Regions from separate parts of the Homo sapiens genome. Here region 2 is linked to region 1. Evidence: fine-mapped expression QTL. A gene starts in region 1. The other region holds a variant in brackets. All regions are shown on one strand. Distances are between the middles of the regions. Region 1 holds the start of CNTN2 (contactin 2). Region 2 overlaps NFASC (neurofascin).

The links. PIP is the estimated chance that this variant, and not a neighbour inherited with it, causes the effect.
Region 2: its variant is fine-mapped to the expression of CNTN2 in cerebellar hemisphere (GTEx, PIP above 0.99).

What each region holds. Positions count from the first base shown.
Region 1 is chr1:205,038,629-205,047,717 of GRCh38, forward strand. CNTN2 (contactin 2) reads left to right here and starts at 4,584. Exons shown (of 23, transcript NM_005076.5): 1 at 4,584-4,766. RefSeq lists enhancers at 4,278-4,422, 4,370-4,514, 8,581-9,085 and cis regulatory regions at 4,350, 4,442.
Region 2 is chr1:204,987,143-204,996,231 of GRCh38, forward strand. NFASC (neurofascin) reads left to right here. Exons shown (of 30, transcript NM_001005388.3): 22 at 276-398; 23 at 1,491-1,664; 24 at 4,150-4,164. Among named protein-coding and RNA genes, the nearest start is that of CNTN2, 52 kb to the right of the region's middle. RefSeq lists an enhancer at 2,493-2,582. The variant G/A (reference allele first, on the strand shown) is at 4,660.

The sequences.
Region 1 (9,089 bases):
TCTCTACTGTCCTGCCCTCCTGCCCTCCCACCTTCCACACCAGCCAAATTGTTTCATAAAAAAAGAACTCAGGGTTCTTTGAGCTCTTTGGAGAGACCACATAAATGCAGGGCATTATTAGCATCATTACTATTAAATATTAATAATGACATTAGCATCATCTATTATAAGCCTGAAAAAGGAGCTGCAAGAGCCCTGGGTTGAAATGGCAAAGAGAATAATTAGGCCCCTCCAGGCCACAGACCCCTCTGGGCCCTCACATGAAATTAGGAAGGCAAATGCAGACAGGGCATTGAGATCTTCCTTCCAGCACCCCTGCTAGGTCAACTTGGCTTCTCCAGGCATTACACAAATCATGGCCTTCCCAGGCCCCACATCTTGGCTCCTGCCACACCACATGCCCCCATGCCAGAAACACATTCCCCACCTCCTCTCTGTCCATCCAGGCTCAATTCAAGATGCACCCACCCACCCCCACTGAAAGCTTCACCCACATCCTACCTCCCTCTCTCCTCATCCTCTGAATGGTTACTATAGCTACTCTCCTTCATTCATTCACCCAGTCAACAAATATTTATTGAGTCTCCACCATGCACCAGGCACTGTGCTAAACAGGAGGGTGGGGGACTGGGAGAATACGGACTGATGAGATAATCCCTACCTTTTGGACTGCATAGCTGAGGGAATGGCCATCAGTATTTGATATGGCACTTTGCAATTCAAAGTGCTTTTAAAAACCATTATGTTTAATTCACATATCCTCACTACCATCCTAGATAGGAGTAGGATCATTCCTATTTTACTGGTGAAGAAATGGATTATCTGGGCGATTAAGTGTCATTCTGTTACTTGCCCAGAGTCATCCAGGTAGGAGTGACAGAGCTGGGACAGAGTCCAGTTCTCTTGACTACAAATCCAGAGCCACCCCAACCACTTGCAGCCCTTACTGCTCTGCCTCATATCCTTGTTTTACAGATGAGGGAGGCTAAATCCCAAAAGGGAAATACTGACATTTATTGAGCACCTGCTGTGCTAGCTACTTCACGTGTAACTCAACACTCACATCAACTCAGTGAGGTATGTGTCTTCATCCCCATATTCTGGGTGAAGAGGTATGTGGCTTGCCCATGGCCTCACATCTCCTCAGTAGCAGGACTGGGTGTCAAACGGGTCTGTCTGCAGAGCTTTTCCTTATGGCCATATCAGTTTTCCCCAGAGCTGTGGATGGACAGTCCTGTTACCACTGTCACACTGCTTCCAAAAAGGTCACTGGCACTTTGAAGACCGCATCCCCTGGCTCTTGGATCCCTACATTCCAGGCAGAGGAGCTGCTCCATAAATACATGGCCTCCTGGGAAAAGGGTCTGGGCAAAGATGCTGGTGGCGGGAGAGGCCAGGAAAGGAGAGGTGAGGCGGGGGAGTGGTGAGGAAAGAGACAGCAAAGCTGCAGCATCCTGGGGCCATGGCAGGGTCTCATCTCCTCCCCACTTGTCCCCAGGGATGGGGCCTAGAGGTCCCTTCTTGATCGGTTAGAGACCCACTGGATTCCATTGCTATCAATCTTGTGTGGCTACAGTAGGAAGAAGCAGATGGTCTGGGCAGGGTTGGGTGGCCCTCAAAATGCTTTCTGATCCCCACCCACCACCACCAAGGGAGCACCACATGTTTGCGGACAAATTTATAAGCCATTTGACTAGCCACCTGATTATCTTCACTGGCCCTTTCTTGCCCTGTTTGAAAGTCTGTGGGGACTCAACTTTGAGATGTGGAGTCCCAGCTCTGGACAACATGGAGTCATATTGATCAGCCACAGAAAGGAGAGGTGGCCCTTATGGTCAGCTGCACTGAAGATTGTGGGCTCTGGATGTCACCAAAGAAGAAGAAACTGTTCTGCCCCCTATTTTGCCCACCTCAAAAGAACAGACAGTAGGTAGCTGGAGTCCATGGCACGGTGGCTAAGCCAGGATGCTGGAGGCCGATCCCAGGCCTCACTCTGTCATCTAGGCTGGAGTGCAGTGGCACGATCACAGCTCACTGCAGGCTTAACCTCCCAGGCTCAGGTGATCTTTCTACCTCAGCCTCCTAGGTAGCTGGGACTACAGGTGTGCACTGCCACACTGGCTAATTTTTGTGTGTTTTTTGTTGAGACGGGGTTTCGCCACGTTGCCCAGGGTTCCACTTGTTTACTATTTCTTTTGAGCAAGTTCCTTACTCTTACTGAGCAACATCTGAAAAGTGAGGATAATAACAACATGGACCTCTTGCGCAAGTAATTCAGGTAAAGCATTTAGCACAGCTCCCGGCATGTGGGAGGCATTCAAAACAGATATTATTTCTGTTATTATCAAGCTAATGGGCCCCACAAGCAAAACTCAGCCTGCACCCCCAAATGCCCACCCCACTCTCTCCTCAGGAACAGGAGCATCTCAGAGACTGGGAGTGCAGATCCCCCTAATCTCCCCAAACTCATTCATACTAGACTTCACTGAGAGCTTCAGACAAGTGAGAAGATGAGACTTTGGGAACTGTCTCCCCATCCAAGTCTAGGCTTGGCAAATGTTCTTGTTTTCACTTATTGTGTCTGCCAGAGTCCACATGGAGCATGCTGGTTGCATTGAGATCTGAGAGTCTTTAAGACCCAAGTCACCTGTGCTAACGACCCTCCCCAGAGACCCAGCTCCCACCACAGGGCAGCAGCTGTCCTAAAATAGAGTCACAAAGACAGCTGTCTCCGTCTAAAGCAATCCTTGCAAGCATTTCCAGACTGTTGGTTCCTGGGCCAGCCTATTTCCTGGCCCGTCAGCCCCCTGCAGCAGACATAGCATCCTTTTCTTGGCAAGGACTTGTTCCTGCCGTTTTCTGCTAGGAGAGAACTTGCAGAGCCTCTCTTTGGAGCCCAGGCTGACTTGAATGGTGCCAAAGAGCAAGGTTCACCTCAGGAGCTCAGAGCCAATGTGCCAGCCCTCAGACATACAGATAGGCAAGGACAGTGTGGGCAGGGGAAGGAAGGGAAAGATATCCTGGCAAGGGGTTGATGTGTCTGTCTATATAACAGCATTCAACATTATTTAAGAAACATCATTAGCAAAATCCAAGTCCTCCCCATCAGGAACAAAGAAGACTATCTCTCAAGTTGGGCAAGCCCTTTGGAGGGGCTCAGAAGGAAAGGAGGGGAGCGCATGTGGGACCTGGGCAGACATTCCAGCCTTGGAGGCTGAGCAGCAGAACCTCCCCGACTCCTTCTCCTTTTCCAGACCCTCTCATTCTGGCCCAGGTCCCCAGGACCTCCTCCACTCAGGGAGACATGGAGCCATGATCCAGGCTTGACAGGTATAGCCATTTAAAACTGGGAGGCTGGCCTGGCCCTGCCAGCTGTTGCAGCATCTGGACTGCTCACCGGTCTTGCCTGTGCAAGCTGGACAGCAGGCAGATCAGAGGGGGGTGAGACAACAGTGACAGCCTGACAGGGCCGACTGGTGCCGCAGATGGCTGGTCCCTCCGCCTCCGGGCCACAGCCTTCCTGGGCACTCCCCCACGTGACCGGAGCAGGGCAGGAGAAAGGCATCGCTGACAAGGGTGAGCACTTAGAATCTCAGAGCTGGCAGGACTGTGTCCATCTTTAATCCCTTCAGGTACCAGCGAGGCTCAGAGAGGGCAGGGCACCTAGCCAAGCACACACAGCCAGTCGGTTGTGGAGCCCAGAGTATGCTTCAGACACCCAGACCCCTAATCCAGGGAGCTTTTCATGACATCACACTGCTGGTTGCTTAAAAATGGGATTGGATCCAAACGTACTGATGCGTAAAAGTGTCCAAGATCAGTTACACAGTTAAAAGTCTTTGGCCAATCCTACTGTTTTATGTAATCACATTTGTGTGAAATAACCCTACTAACCCATGTAATTGTATACACGAAAATAATAAACCTGGGGGCATGTACTTAGATTTATTAAGAGTAGTGGTTGAGGGACTTTCACTATGTATTTTTAAATGTCCTCTAATATTTAGATATTTTGACAAAAAGCTCAAACTACTTTTGAACAAGGGAAACAATAAAGAGGAACATGGGGTGGACCGGGCAACAGAGACAGCCCCTCCCTGCCACTTGCCCCACACAGCAAGCTGGGATTTCTGATTTGGATCTCTTCCTCGGATAGGGGATTTCTGGGGAAACCAGGAGTTTTGGCTCCATGGGTCTCCAGGGTTTGAGGAGTAAGAGCCACTTTCTTTTCCCTCTTCACCCCGCCCCTCTCCTGCCCCTTCAGCCCTGGGCAGGGGGACTAGAAGTGGGGCTGGGCAGGATCGGGAGGGCAGGCGGGCCAGACAGCGCCCCGCGGCCTGTCCATGAGCGGCCCATGCATTATGGAAGACGCGCGCTGGGCTCGCTCCCTGGTCCTTAAATGACAGCAAATGAGGTAAAGCCAGGAGGGTGGGGACGGAAGTGGGGTGGGAGGGGGGCAGAAGGAAGCCATCTCCAGGGCCCCCGAGCGTTGGCTGAGGACCAGAGCCAGCCAGTGAGCGGAGCCTGGGAGAGGGAGGAGCACATCTTGATGCAGAGATGCTGCAGTGGCTCCGGGCGCGCTCACACACACGCGCCCTCACCCGCCACCGCCGCCGCGGCCGCCGCCGCACCCGGACAGCGAGCGGCTGAGGCCGCCAGGGCCCAAAGGACAGCGGCCCAGACAGGGGCTGGCGGCCCGGCCGGCCCCGGCTCACCGACTCGGGCAGCATCCACCTGCCCCAGCCAACACCCTTCTCTCGCCCCAGGTAGGTGCCAACCGCTTTTGTCTCCTCCAACCCAGGGACTTCCCTGCGTGCTGTTATGGGCCGGGGCTCCCGGCTCAGTTCCTGTAAATATCCCCCTTGTAACTTGGGAGGGAACAGGGACAGGAACACTGGCAGGCTGGGGCCGTTCTGACTTCTCCCCTCAGCCCCAGGGTGGGTGCTGGGGCTCCCCTCCGCCCTGTCTACGTGGGCGGCATCCCGCAGGGCTCTCTCAGGCCGAGCCTGGCCGAAAAGCTGGACCCCAGGAGTGTGTCCAGGAATTCCAGTTGGCCAGCGGGCAGTGGCAGCTGCCTGTGGAGAGGGCAGTTTCTCCTGGGCCGGCCCTGGGCACCCGGTCCAGGACAGGACCAGTCCATACAGCCAGGCCCTGGGCCCTGGCCTGCCCCAGAAGTCCCTGCATGGAATTGAGCCGGAGTCCCCAGTTTTGAGGTCACCCAGGGTCTACCTCTGCAGGGTGACCTCTTTGCAAAGTCTTGCTTCAGCTGGATGGAGAGGGGGGCTGTGGAAGAGAGAGGGGAGAGTGGAGCACAAGTTTGGGCAAGGGCCTGTCCAGGAACTGGGACTCGGGGAGGAGAGTCCTGAGGCCAGTCACATCCCAAAGGGCGAGAGGCTGGGGCTACCGGGCTGAAATTCCTTTCCTTCCCTTCCCCCTCCCAACCTTAGCTTCTCCTCAAATCCCTCCCCCCCATCCTCACTGGTGGGAGGGAAGAATTTGCACAAAGTTTGGCTTTCCAGTAAGGAAAGGGGCTGGGGCCAGAATGGTATGGGGAAGGGAAGGGGCAGAGCTGGGGAGTTCTGGAAAGAGAGGGCAATCCTTCTGCCCAGCACCGTGGGGCTTACATAATGGGCTGGAGGTGGGGGGCAGCCCCAGCCAGTGAGTGTCCAGAGCTGAATCCTGTCACCTTCTCCAAGAGGGTCTCTCAGGTCTGGGAAGCAGCGGGGCATGGAGAAGGCAGTGCCTATGGAAGGGGAGAATCCTGCTGCTACTTGGGGATGGAGACGGGCACCCTCTAGCCCCAGACCCCTGGGGGTTGAGCCTGTGTCCTGGGGGGGGGGGTCCAGTGAGGCCAGGAGGGAGTGGGGTTGTGCATGCCATGGCCCCAGCCCTGGAGAAAGGTGGGTTTCAGCATCTTTTCCCTCTGCTCAGAAGGAGCTGGGAGGAGGAACAGCCCAAGAAACCCAGTGCACAGGTGATGTTCTGGTCTCGTCTGGGCAACAGTTTCGGCCTCCTCTCCCAACCGTCTGGCCAAAGACGCCTCAGCTCACTTAGCCTCCGAGTCTCTCTACCTCCTGGTCCCACTCAGAGGGGCCGGATGAGCCACTGGAGATCGAGTGCAGCAAAAGGTGGGCCACCTGTGGGAGAGGCTGCTGTGATCGCACCTGGACAGGGAGATGGCCTGGAGGTCACAACAGGTGCCCTCACTCCTGGCCTTGGGAGAAGGGAGCTCTCCCCTTAAAGACAGCAGCATCCAAGCCCCTCCCCAGGGTGCCCACCAGTTAACCCCTTTCTAGCCAAGCTGCAGAACCATGGACAGGGCTTTTGCCACAAGGTCAGAGTCCTTCCTAATCTCCCGTGGAAGTCCTCAGCGAATAAGAGGGAGGCAGGAGGTGAGACAGACAGGAAAGGGCCCCTGACCTGATGATGTCAAAGTCACCCAAGGTCCACCTGCCTCACAGGTGCAGAGACCACTGTGCTCACACCATGAGCGGTGAGGGAAGCAGAGGCACACTCCTTATGCAGATGAGTGCCTCAGACTCCAGGAGTCTGCTCTCATTCCCGGCTCTTTCTCTCTTACTCTCCTCCCTTCCTCTACTCCTTCTTTCCTCGCACTCCCTTCTCTCATCGCGTGTACTCCACCGGCTTCAGCCCTCAGCCTCCCGCCGCCACCATTTCCCCTGCCAGATTTCACTCCTTATGCAACTCCATTCCAGCACCTTCTCTGCCAGCAGTTGTTCAAATAGAGACACATGTGGGATGGGCCTCCGAGGAATTGTGCTTAACGGGGTGATTGCACATCTCGTCTCTGGCTGACCAAACTTACTCCTTAGGAGCATGTACATAGACAGGTGTACCCCAAGGCATCCTTTCTGCCTCTAAAGTCACCAGGGAAGCAACGCATTTGGGGTGGTTTGGAGGATGCATGGTGCCCTCTTCAGAAACCTCCTTGAGCCAAACGTTGGTGAGAAAGCGTATTTCAAAGACAATCTCTAAGCCTGAGTGTGGGTGGTATTTGTATTTTTGGAGGGATTCCTAGGGCAGAACCAGGGGGTTGGAGAAGAGGTGATTGATATGCAGGGGAGGAAGAACCAGAGCAAAGAATATGCCAGGGAAGCCAGAGGGACTTAAGTTAGACTGCAGGAGACACTTCCTGGCTAGAAGAGTGAGCCATGAGGAGGTGGGGCAGTCTCCTTTCAGATGACTCTAAGGATGGTGTGGAGAACTGGGGTCTGGTCCAAGGTTAGAGAGTCCTGCCTAGAGGCAAAGGTTGGGCTGGCTGACCCTGTAAATTTCTTCCAACTTCTAGTAATCCTCTTTCAAATGGTAAAAGGTGGATGTGACTCAGGAATCCATAAGAAGGCAGACATCCTTTTCATCCCCTCATGCATGCTGGCCACCCCCTCATCCTTCAGGACTACAACCCCAATCTAAACAAACCACCCAGAGGCTGTTGCTAACCTGGAACATTTATGGGAGTTTCTGTGGGCTCCGTATCCTGACGGTAACCATCCTAGAGTAAGTCCTTTCTTAGTTTGATGATTCCTTGCTACAAGATTAGCCCATGTTTCTTTGTTTACCAAAGAGAATGCAAACAAAAGCAAGGAGTGTGATATTCTCATCCAAAACCTGAACACCTCCCATCCCAGGACACACTCAGGCCCAAACGCATCTCAGTGTCCTTTTTACCTAATGAGACATTCAGTTCACTACGTAGGTGGGGAAGTCAACCCCAGCCCCTCACACACACCCATCTAGTCAAACCTGCTGGGCTTCCTCCAGCCTAAGCCCACATCTTCTCAGTGCCTGCCACCCTGAACACCCTGACCAAGGGGTTCTCCCACCCTGTGCCTGGCTGGAGGGCAGCCTTCCTGCAGTGCTGCCCAAGAGGTGAAGTTAATCTGGACCCCAAATCCAAAGGAAACTAGCTTGAGAGGAGGAGCAGGTTGGACCTCACCCCCACCAGGCTTAAGCTCTGAGCCACCCTGGAGGAAGCTGTCTAGGAACTGGGGGGAGCCTCCTTGCAGCAGAGTTGGGGGACAAGCAGAAATTGCTCTGCTAATGCACGAGGAAATTTTCTTCCTGATTTGCTTTTTCAGAAACAAGTTGAAACCATTGTTCTTACGCCTGGCATCTCAAAAAGGGATCCTTCTAAAGCCCTCACTCACTGCCTCACACCACACACAGAGCAGGGCAGGCAAGTAGGAAAACCTAAGGTCTGGGGGTGGCTGGCTTCTGATCCTGAGCTTCCCAGGAGGATGGAAGCCTCTCTTCTTCTGTCCACTCCCTACTTTAAAGGGTCTCTCTGTTAGAGTAGGTCTCTCTTGCAGGGGCAAAGACTCTAGGCTCAGATCAAGGGCCAGACTCCCCCCTGCCCAATGCTAGAAGATCAAACAAATCCATGAGCCTGGGAGCCACAGCTCTCCCCAGAGGGCACGTCAGCACCAGGGCTGGGCCTCGGGGAAGCAGCTGCAATCACAAAGAGCCTGCAGAGAGAGCTGAGCAGCTCACAGAGGGGACTAAGGAAGGACGGGGCTGCACGACACCCCTGGTCCCCATTGGGGCTGAGGAGGTCCCTATGTCCCCATTTCTGCCCTAAGGATGTCTCCAGCTCAGGGTACCACAGAGACCCCTCAGTCACAATCCTTCACCCCACCCCTGCCAGCTGCAGCCTGGCCTGGCCCGCTGAGATCCTAGCAGCCCTCACCCACGCCACCACAGAGCCCTGTACTGACCAGAGGGGCATGGGGATGGTTCAGACCTTCCTGGAGGATGATGGTGCTGTCCCAGGAGGCAATTCTTGTCTTAGGCAAAGGAAAAGGTACTGATCTTAGATCCCATCAGGCAGGAGGTGAGGGCTGTTGAGAAGGAGTACCTGCTTGGGAGTGCCTGTCCTGGCCGCGTGACCCCCTGAGCACATTGTACCAGGTATAACTCTGGCATGGGGGCTGTGTCCTTGTGCCCTAGTCTGGGGTGCTGTGCTAGTGCTTACCTATGACCATTGCACCTTTGAGGCGTAAGAGGAGGGAGGCACCTGCCCAGGAGATTGTGGGTTTGTCAGTCTCCTAAATACATATGAGTGCCGCCTG
Region 2 (9,089 bases), 51 kb before region 1:
AGAGTAGTTGCTAGAAGAAAACCTGATTTACTTCTTCCTCTCTTAAATAGCAGAGTCTGAGCTATGTTTGTCCTCAGACCTGAAGGAAATAGCATCCTGGATGGGGCAATGGGCTCCGGTCGTCTCACGGTTCTCCCAGGCTTCAGTTTAGCAGTGTCGAGCATGGGGGTTGTCCAGAGGTCAATGCCTTCATACTTGTGCTTTGTTTTTTGTGTTTTCCTCATCCTCCCTGCCCCCTCCCCCTCATCTCCCCTGCTCTCTCCTCCTTCCCCAAGTACCCAGTGCCCCTAGGCGTTTCCGAGTCCGGCAGCCCAACCTGGAGACAATCAACCTGGAATGGGATCATCCTGAGCATCCAAATGGGATCATGATTGGATACACTCTCAAATATGTGGCCTGTACGTTCTGCCCTTCCCTTTCTCTTAGATAATCTGGGAACCAGAAACCCCATTCTCACCACTTTTCCTAAGGACTCAAGGTAGAAAGCCTGTGGGTGCAGATGGCATTGTGGAGGGATGGAGGGGCCAACGAAACAGTTCCCAATAGGATTAGGGGAGGCAGATGGGACTCAATCCCTGCTCTCCTTTCATAGTTCTGCCTGCAGGGAGCTTCTAGTCTCACTGATGAGACAAAGGGACCTCCAGTCTAATGAAGCAGACAGCCATGCCTTTAGGGATCTTTTGTAGTCTCCAACACGTACAGAGTCTAGGAGAGAGAGTTCCTCAAGCTCTGGAGCTTCCACCTGATGGGGTAGATAGTATACTCACAGGAGTCCACAGTCAGGACACCCCTTGACAAGATGTCATTTATGATAAGGCAGCTGCATGTAGAGCTGCCCGGTGACTGTGGGGTGACCCGAATCAGGAGCCTGGGTTGGAAAGACCCCACCTCAAGAGCTCAGCATCACCATGCAGGGACAGGAGTGCCATTACATTTGAAACACTTTAGGCCTTCAAAAGTAGGTAACGTACCTCGTTAGGAAACTCAAAGAGCCAAATGTTGTGTTGTTAGCAATTTTAATAGCCAACTCTGTGCTTGTATGCTGTTCTGAATTGATCTCTGGACCAGACCCTTTCACCCTTTGAGGTCCATTGAATAGGCACTTTACAAAGGAGGCATTAAGAATCAAAAGGCCTAGTGGCGTTGTCCTAGTTCTGTTTGAAAGGAAGAAAGAAAGTGAAGAGTTTTGTCCTTGTTGAAAGGGCTTAAGAATATAAACGGAATCTTTCTGAATCAGCCACATAACTCTGCAGTGAGCTAGAGACAACAGGATCAGTGAAGAAGGATTAACCCTGGGTGTAATCAAAGAGCCCGGAGGGAGTTCTTGCCGAGTGTTCTGCCTTTGAACCAAGCCTTTAAGATCACCAGGCAGGTGCCATCATTTCCCTTTCCAGCAAAGTCAGGAAAGTGTTCTTCCTCCAGCTTGCAGATTATATAACCCATCAATAAATGTTGCTAAAGTTTAATTCCACTTACCTCTCTCTCCCCAGTTAACGGGACCAAAGTAGGAAAGCAGATAGTGGAAAACTTCTCTCCCAATCAGACCAAGTTCACGGTGCAAAGAACGGACCCCGTGTCACGCTACCGCTTTACCCTCAGCGCCAGGACGCAGGTGGGCTCTGGGGAAGCCGTCACAGAGGAGTCACCAGCACCCCCGAATGAAGGTAGGTGCATGGCAGCAGCCCCTGGGGTAAAAGGTCCCAGCTAATTCCGAGGCCTAGAGAAACACTGAGATCTGTAGCTGGCTGCCTGGGATGGAGAGGAAATGAGACTTGCAAGTCCTCAAGCCCTCGGAAGGTGAGAACCCATCTTATGTGTGAGAGGTAGGTGCTGGCATTGTATCTGGAGCTCAGCTCTCCTTGGACCACTGTGGTCACACCTGGGTCCCCACTTGCCCTGACTTGCTCAGTCACTTGACATCTATCATCTTTCCTTCTTGTAGAGGAATAAGGAAGAGAGCATGAGTTGAGAAATGAGAGAAATCATAATGAACTCCAAAGAACAGTGAGTGTTCACCTCTTGAGGGAGGCAGGAATATGATTGTGAGTGCTCCCATGAGGGCTCTGGGGACAACCTTCTTTCTTCGAAGGCACATGGGTTCAAGGAGGTAGGGGAAACCGTCAGGATGACGCTGTTACTGGCATCATGAGTAGAGCAGAGAATGTGGTCCTTCCTTGCAGCCTGAATTGGATGCGTTGTCAGGCTGCAGAGAGGAGGAGGAGTTAGGAAACAGCCATTTGCCAAGCCAGCTTCACAAAGAGCAAATGAGTTCATCACCTGGGTCCAGGCGTCATCTGGCAGCATTTCAGCCCCACCAGAGCTGCACCTGCCTGAGGACTCCACTAGAGGGGGCTCCAGGCTCACCCGCACACGCACTGGCATCAGGGGAATGTGCAGTCTGGGACCTCTCGAGGAGGCAAGGCTGCAAAAGCCTCAATACTGGCACACCCTCTGGGAAAGGCTGGGGACCCCCGTGTGTCTCCAGAGATACAATGGTCTATTCAACAGCCATTTCTTGAGTACCCACAATGTGAGGTGCCAGACACTGCCACACACAAGGGATATACAAAGGTAACAAGAAGCTCACACCATCTAGAGGGGGAGTCATCTATAAGAATATCTAATTGCATGTCTAAATGAGGGGGCGCAGTGGCTGGGCAGAGAAGGGGATTCAGTCTTCACGGGAAGACTCCAGAGAAGAGGTGATGTGAGTGGGCACTCTGGAAGCTGACAAGTCATCGTGTCTGGTGCTTTCCACAGAAGGGTCAGGTCCCGTGGCCTGGCCCAGGCCCAGACGGGGTCTTCTGAATACCACCCCTACCCGCATTCCAGGAGAGCATCAGTGCTGCCTTCTCTGGGGCTACCAGGCCCGCTGCGTCACCCCGGGATCCCAGGCAGCTTCACAAGCTGCCCACATCCTTCCCCAGCCCACCACTCTAGCCAGTAGACCAGCGCTGAGGCAGGAGAAGAGGGGCCAGGCAGAAGCAGAGAAAGGCTGACAGCCCGCTCTGCATCCCTCTCTGGTCTCAGAAACCAGGAGTGAGTCACACAACCAGCTCTCCCTCCTGCTGTGCTCTTCTGCACTCTCCCAAGCCCCTGGGCACTCGGGAAGTTTATTAGGGCAGGGGGACTTAGGTTAGTGGCTGATGTGTGTCTGTCACCAAAGGCCAGGCCAGGCCAGGCCATGATGCACTTTCTTGATTACTCAATTCTGCAAATAGATAGATAAAGAGAGCCCCTTCTTCCCTCCCTATGTGCACCCCAATACAGAACATCAGATAACAAAGCCCTATTGTCCAGCCCCAGTAACCACCACAGAGAATGTTCTGCAGCCCCAGGGGACAAAAGGACAAATAGAGGCTTTTTTCTTAACTTAGGGCTTTGCAGAAAATTCAAGAATTTCACTTAGGGCTCTCAGTCCAAAAAAAAAAAAAAAAGAAAAAGAAAGAAAAAAGAAAGGGCTCTCAGTCCAAACTTGGGTTTCTAACTTCATAAAGTCCAACTGGAGGGGAAGAATTGGAGTGACGGAATACCAGGAGAGGGGCTCCAGGCTCCATCCTTCAAAGTTCCCGCCTTCCAAGGTTGCGATGGTGTGGAGTGGGTGCAGCTGAACATGCTCCCTCTCTCCTATCCATCCCACTATTCAGCATCTTCCCCCAAAGACAGGAACCATCCTTTTGACTGGAGTTGGTGTCCTCCCACACCACCTACTCCTTATCCCCTCAATTCCTGGCATCATGGAGCGTCACCCAGCCTGCTCAAAGGTCATGCCAACCTAGCCAGAGCAGGACATGCTGTTGAGGACAGAGCTGGGAACATAATGCTCTGAGTGGACTGTCCCTGCAGCCACCTTTTAGATGTCCAGTCCTTGAATCGAGGTAGAAACAGTGTGTTAGAAAGGTCTCCAAGGCCCAGGTGGAAAGGTTTCTGTAGGAACATGCCTGACTCAGGTGGAGTTGACCGTGAACCCTGAATGCCAGTTGGCATCCTCAGGCCAGCAGCCAGCACCTGGCCACGCCGTCTGCATAAGGTTTGGGCTGGAACCTTCCCTGCTTTCCTTGTCCTGTGGTCTCACTTGTGCTCTGTTTTCTCTTCCCTTTTCCATCCTTTCTCCCTCTGTCTGGCCATCTTGGGCGCTGTGTTCTGAAGCTACTCCAACCGCAGGTACCGTACCAGCCGCGGAGGTAATGGGCATGGCATGGGGCAGCGCAGGCGGAGCCCAGCCCAGCCAGGGCGGACAAGGAGGGAGAGGCTCAGGCTGAAAGCATGCTCCAGACTCACCCTTTCAGTGGTTGGGAAGCCAGACTGTCAAGAGGGATGTGTGTGGAGGATGGGACCAGAGGAGAGCAAGCCCACTTTCCCCCCTTCCCAAACTATTTGCCCCCTGCTGAGTAGGAGAATGGCTCAGCAGGGGTCACACACACACCGGCCCTGACCTGCTCTCTGGAGCTGCAGTTTCATTCTGACACTGAGTAGATTACTTCCCGTTAACCACCTGAGTCCTTGCCTGGGCTTGACAGCTCAGAGCAGTGTCCCCAGCTGTGGCCCTAGAAGGCGCGCTGCAGCAGGAGCAGGGACAGCTGGCTCCTGGTGGGGCTGCCATCTCCTGAAAGGGTGAACATGCTGTGCATGCCAGCTTCGCATGCTGCATGGGGGCCC[G/A]GCACCGGCTCTGCCAGCCACCACGGGCTCTGCTCAGTGAGAACAAGCAAGCATGTCCATGGATAGGGCCAGGTGCTCCAGTTCCTGGAGTCTCAGCAGGCACCGTGGGCTGATTATCTCCTCACCCTTCAGAAACCCAGCTTTTCCAAGTCTTTATCGTTAAGAACAGTCTCCACTCTCGGGGTATGGGAGGTAGATCTACAGTGGACTAAGGTGCTGGGCAGCTCTGGGCTTAGGACCTGCTAATCAAGTTACTCCTCTCCAGTCCTCATGTCATGGGTTTGAGGGTCATCAAAGGGCTCTTCATCACAGTTGGCCTGTCCCCAGGCTGGAGAAACGAGGCAGGGGACCCCAGGGTTCCTTTCCAGGCCCTCCTCTGAGCCTGAATTACATCAGATGGGAAATGAGAACAGGATTCACCCTGGCAGAGCAAAGGCTACAAGCAAGTGCTCAGCAGAGCCTCCTTACATGCCAGGCAGTGGAGGGAGGGCTGAGGACCGGGCCAGGAATCTGAGGGTTGGCTTATGAAGGGGATGCCACCTTGCCCAATTCGATTTCCTCCTCGCCTTTGCTTATTCATCCCCACCCCCATCCTAGGTTGATTCTATTTCTGTTGCATACCCTGCTTCCTTCAGTTTGTGTATGTTTTGCGGCCAGATCTGTGGATGGTGAGCTGCCATCATCCTTCCCTCTCTCCCTCAGTCCTCAACATTCACCCACCACCCCAGTGCCTCCCCACAAGGTCTGAACACCCCTGTGAAGATGTGAGGCAGAGAGGTGATCCCAGGCCTGGGGAACAGGGTGAGAGCCATCCTTGCCACACTGGGGGCCTCCCTGACTTCCTGCTTGAAGTTTACGTAAGTCTCTCCCGTGACGAAGAGGAAACGCAGGGAGGGCACCAGGCGAATCAGCTGCAAGCTCAATGGGGAAGCAGCTCCCCGTCCACCTCCCCTGTTCTGGCACCCTGGGACCCAAGGCAGGTGGGCCTGGTGGCAGGCAGTCTGTCTTGTTCAGTGGGCATCTGTGCCGGCCTGTGCTGTCCCTCTACTGAGTGGGTGAGAGGTATCTTTGCAATCACCCCACTTCCTACTTCCCATTTAGAAAAGATCTACACTCATCCAGCATGAGCTCACGGTCTCAATCAAATGTTTCCTGGGCTCCAGCTTCCGTGTGACATGGCAGTGGAGGCAGATTGCACTTTTTTGGAAATGAGATGTGCTGATAACATCAGCTGTTCTCAGCTTTAAATGCGTAAGAACCTTCTGCACAATGAGCAGGTGCCAAGCAACGAAACTCGGGTTCCATGTTTCTGACGTGGGCCTGGCGTCCGGCCCACTGCTGTCTTCCCTCTCGTCCTCTCCAAACCTGGGCACTATTTCCCCAAACTGCCCTGTTCATCTCTCACCCAGTGAAGATAATCCCTCTCATCCACCTGTATCTGTAGTCTCTTAGGATTGCTGCCCGTCTGTCTGACAATCTGTGATTTGGCCGGGGTAGTCAACACGCCATGTGGACATTTTTGGACTAAACCTTCCACCTTGGAATGTAAGGAAGTGCTGTTCTCTTCTTTGACCCAGCTCAGGTCTGCAAATGTTTGGTGGGCTCTTGATAGGTGCCCTGTTCCGTGGCAGGTTCTGGGACAGAAAGATGAATGACACATGTCATCTCTCCTCAGTGTTCTCCATCTCATGCATGGTGCTCCCTGAAACCCACCTGGAAAACCCTTGGCCGCAGCCAGGGTGCCTTCCAGTGTGCATTAGGTCACAAACCTGTGAGGTTGACGCTGCCATCTAGGAAGGGCCTTGTGCTTCCAGCCGAAGCCCACTCAGGATCCCCCCTTAGCTAACAGAGAGTCTCTGCCCGCTGTCCTTGGTCGCCAGGCTGATGGTCTCCACTGAGCACTGGCCAGGATTGCTTCCAAACCTGTAGCTCCTATTGCGGCAGGAAATGACATCCTAGCCCAGTCATGTGTCTGCCCAGCCTGGTGCTGCTCTGTTGGTAAGCCCTACTTCTCAGCTTCGTTGCTCTTCTATCCTCTCCTCCACCTCAGCCCCAGGGGATGAAATAATCTGAATCTCCTTAGACCTGAGCAGTGGAAGGTTTTCCCCATGGAACACTTGTCCTCCTCTCGTTCCCACCTGTACTAGCCCCCTGACAGCTCACTGCCTGACTCTTCTGCACCTTCCCTCGGAGGCTTTTCTTCTTTCCTCCACCCTCCCTAGCTCTCTGGAGGCCCTGTCTTGCCTTGGGACAATAGACACAGCTAATGAGTGGGTCGGAGATGTGCCAGCAGTGACCTTAGCCAGCTGAGGTTGTATCCTCTATGGTAACTTCAATGGTGGGAGCCCCGGGGAGGCTGCCGGAAAGTGACCCCTTTCCTCTCTCTCATCTCTTGCTCCCTCTTACTAAGCCTGAGCCAGACAGGAAGCAGCTAGGTAGCCATCATCAGAGAAAAATGCTTCCTTTCTGCCACACTTGGCAGAAGTGGCCATCAGGGGAGGGGACAATGCAGTGTAGAAACATCTTCAGAGCCATCTCTCATCCTTACCTCTGCCCAGCAGGGCCGGTGAGGAAAATGCTGTCACCTGGGCTCTCTTGACACCTCTGTCCCCCAGCTACTCACTGGAACATCCTGGGAAGTGTGTGCCCCCAGCTATGGCCCTGTTGGGGTATGAGTGTGTGTGTGTCTCTGCGAGTCTGAGGGCCACATGAGAGAGTGTAAAGCTTTGGGGAAGACTGACTTGGATTCTGGGGCCTGGGAAATGTAGCACCACTGCACCTGTAGGAAGGGAGGCCCAGGCTCCTGCACTACGCGGTGTGATGATTCAGGTTAAAAGGGAGTGTTTGCTTTTTTGTTTTGTTTTGTTTACTTGAGGCAGAGTCTCGCTCTGTCGCCCAGGCTAGAGTGCAGTGGCTTGATCTCGGCTCACTGCAACCTCCTCCAAAGGGAGTGTTTTCTAATGATGCCTTTTAGATAGTCATGAGAAGGGCTACCTTGTAAGCATTTGATTTGTCAGAAATTATTAGAAAATATACTATTGATAAGGAACTCCGGCAGGTGCACACTTTGGGAGGCTGAGGCTAGAGAATTGCTTGAGCCTGGGAGTTCAAGACCAGCCTGGGTTCCATGACAAAACCCCATCTCTACAAGAAATACACAAATTAGCCAAGCATGGTGGACCTGTAGCTGGACCTATAGTCCCAGCTACTCAGGAGGCTGAGGTGGGAGGATTGCTTGAGCCTGGGAGGTCGAGGCTACAGTAAGCCATGATCACACCACTACACTCCAGCCTGGGTGACAGAGCAAGATCCCGTCTCAATTAAAATAAAAAAAATCAGAGCAGTCCTGCCCAAGTAGACAAAATAATTGCTCCAGGTCTGTGCCAGCAGCACAGAGCAGCGGAAAGAGCCCATGTGTGTCTATGGCCATGAGAGCTGCAGGGAGCAGGCCTGGGAGAGAACTGACCTTTGCCCCATGGGTCTCTCAGGCTTTCCCATGTATGATGTGTGCACAGTGTGTGTGTGTGTGTGTGTGTGTGTGTGTGTGTGTGTATGTGTGTCGGTGGGTGGGGATAAGTGAATTCCCTCTTGTTGAGTGTTTTTAGTGCTGAGATTATATTCCAGGCCTGAGGCCATCCTGGACTGAGCACAGCCCTAAATAAAGAATCTGAGAGGGAGAGTTGCCCCACCGCTCACCCCTCCGCACGCCGCCCTGATGTCTGTGGGTTGACCGGGGTTTGGGGAGTATAGCATTGTGAGCTTTGAGCCTGCCCAGGAACCTCTGGAACGTATGGGGCATAGTCAGCTGCCCAGTGTGACTTCGGTGGCCAGCACCCTCGGGGCACAGTAGTACCTCTGATCTTATTAGCAGGGAAGCAGGAGTATTCCCTCCTTCTCCAAAGAGGGACTTGTAATTTTGGAGACCCAAGGGAATGAAAGGGCTTTTGCTGGGCAGGCTCTGGCTGAGAAGGCTTAGGATCACTTCACTCTCCCTTAAAAAAAGCTCTCTGGCAATTCTTTCTCTGGCATCCCTCCCTGCCCTAGCCCCTTTCTCGGGGATATTATTTTCCTGAGAGATTTGAGGCTGGGTAGGATTCCTTGGGAGTGAGAGTTAGCTGCCTGTGTTTTAAAGTCCCTGCCTACTGCCCCATTAGCGTCAACACTAGAAAGTGGAGTGCTGTCAGATCACAGGAGATCCAGTGCAAGGAGGAGAGGGGGCTTTGTCTCTCTCTGCTTGGCCTCATTCTCATACTCTCAGCTTTAGCAAATATTAGATCTGCGGGTAAGGATAGGGCAGCCCTTTCCATGACCTTCTATATCAGGAAAGAAGACCTGTGAAAAAGTTGTCACATACATAAGCTTAGCCCTCCCAAGCTGACCAACATCCAAGGATAGCTTTGGGTGGGAGATGGGTGTCATGAGAGGGTTAG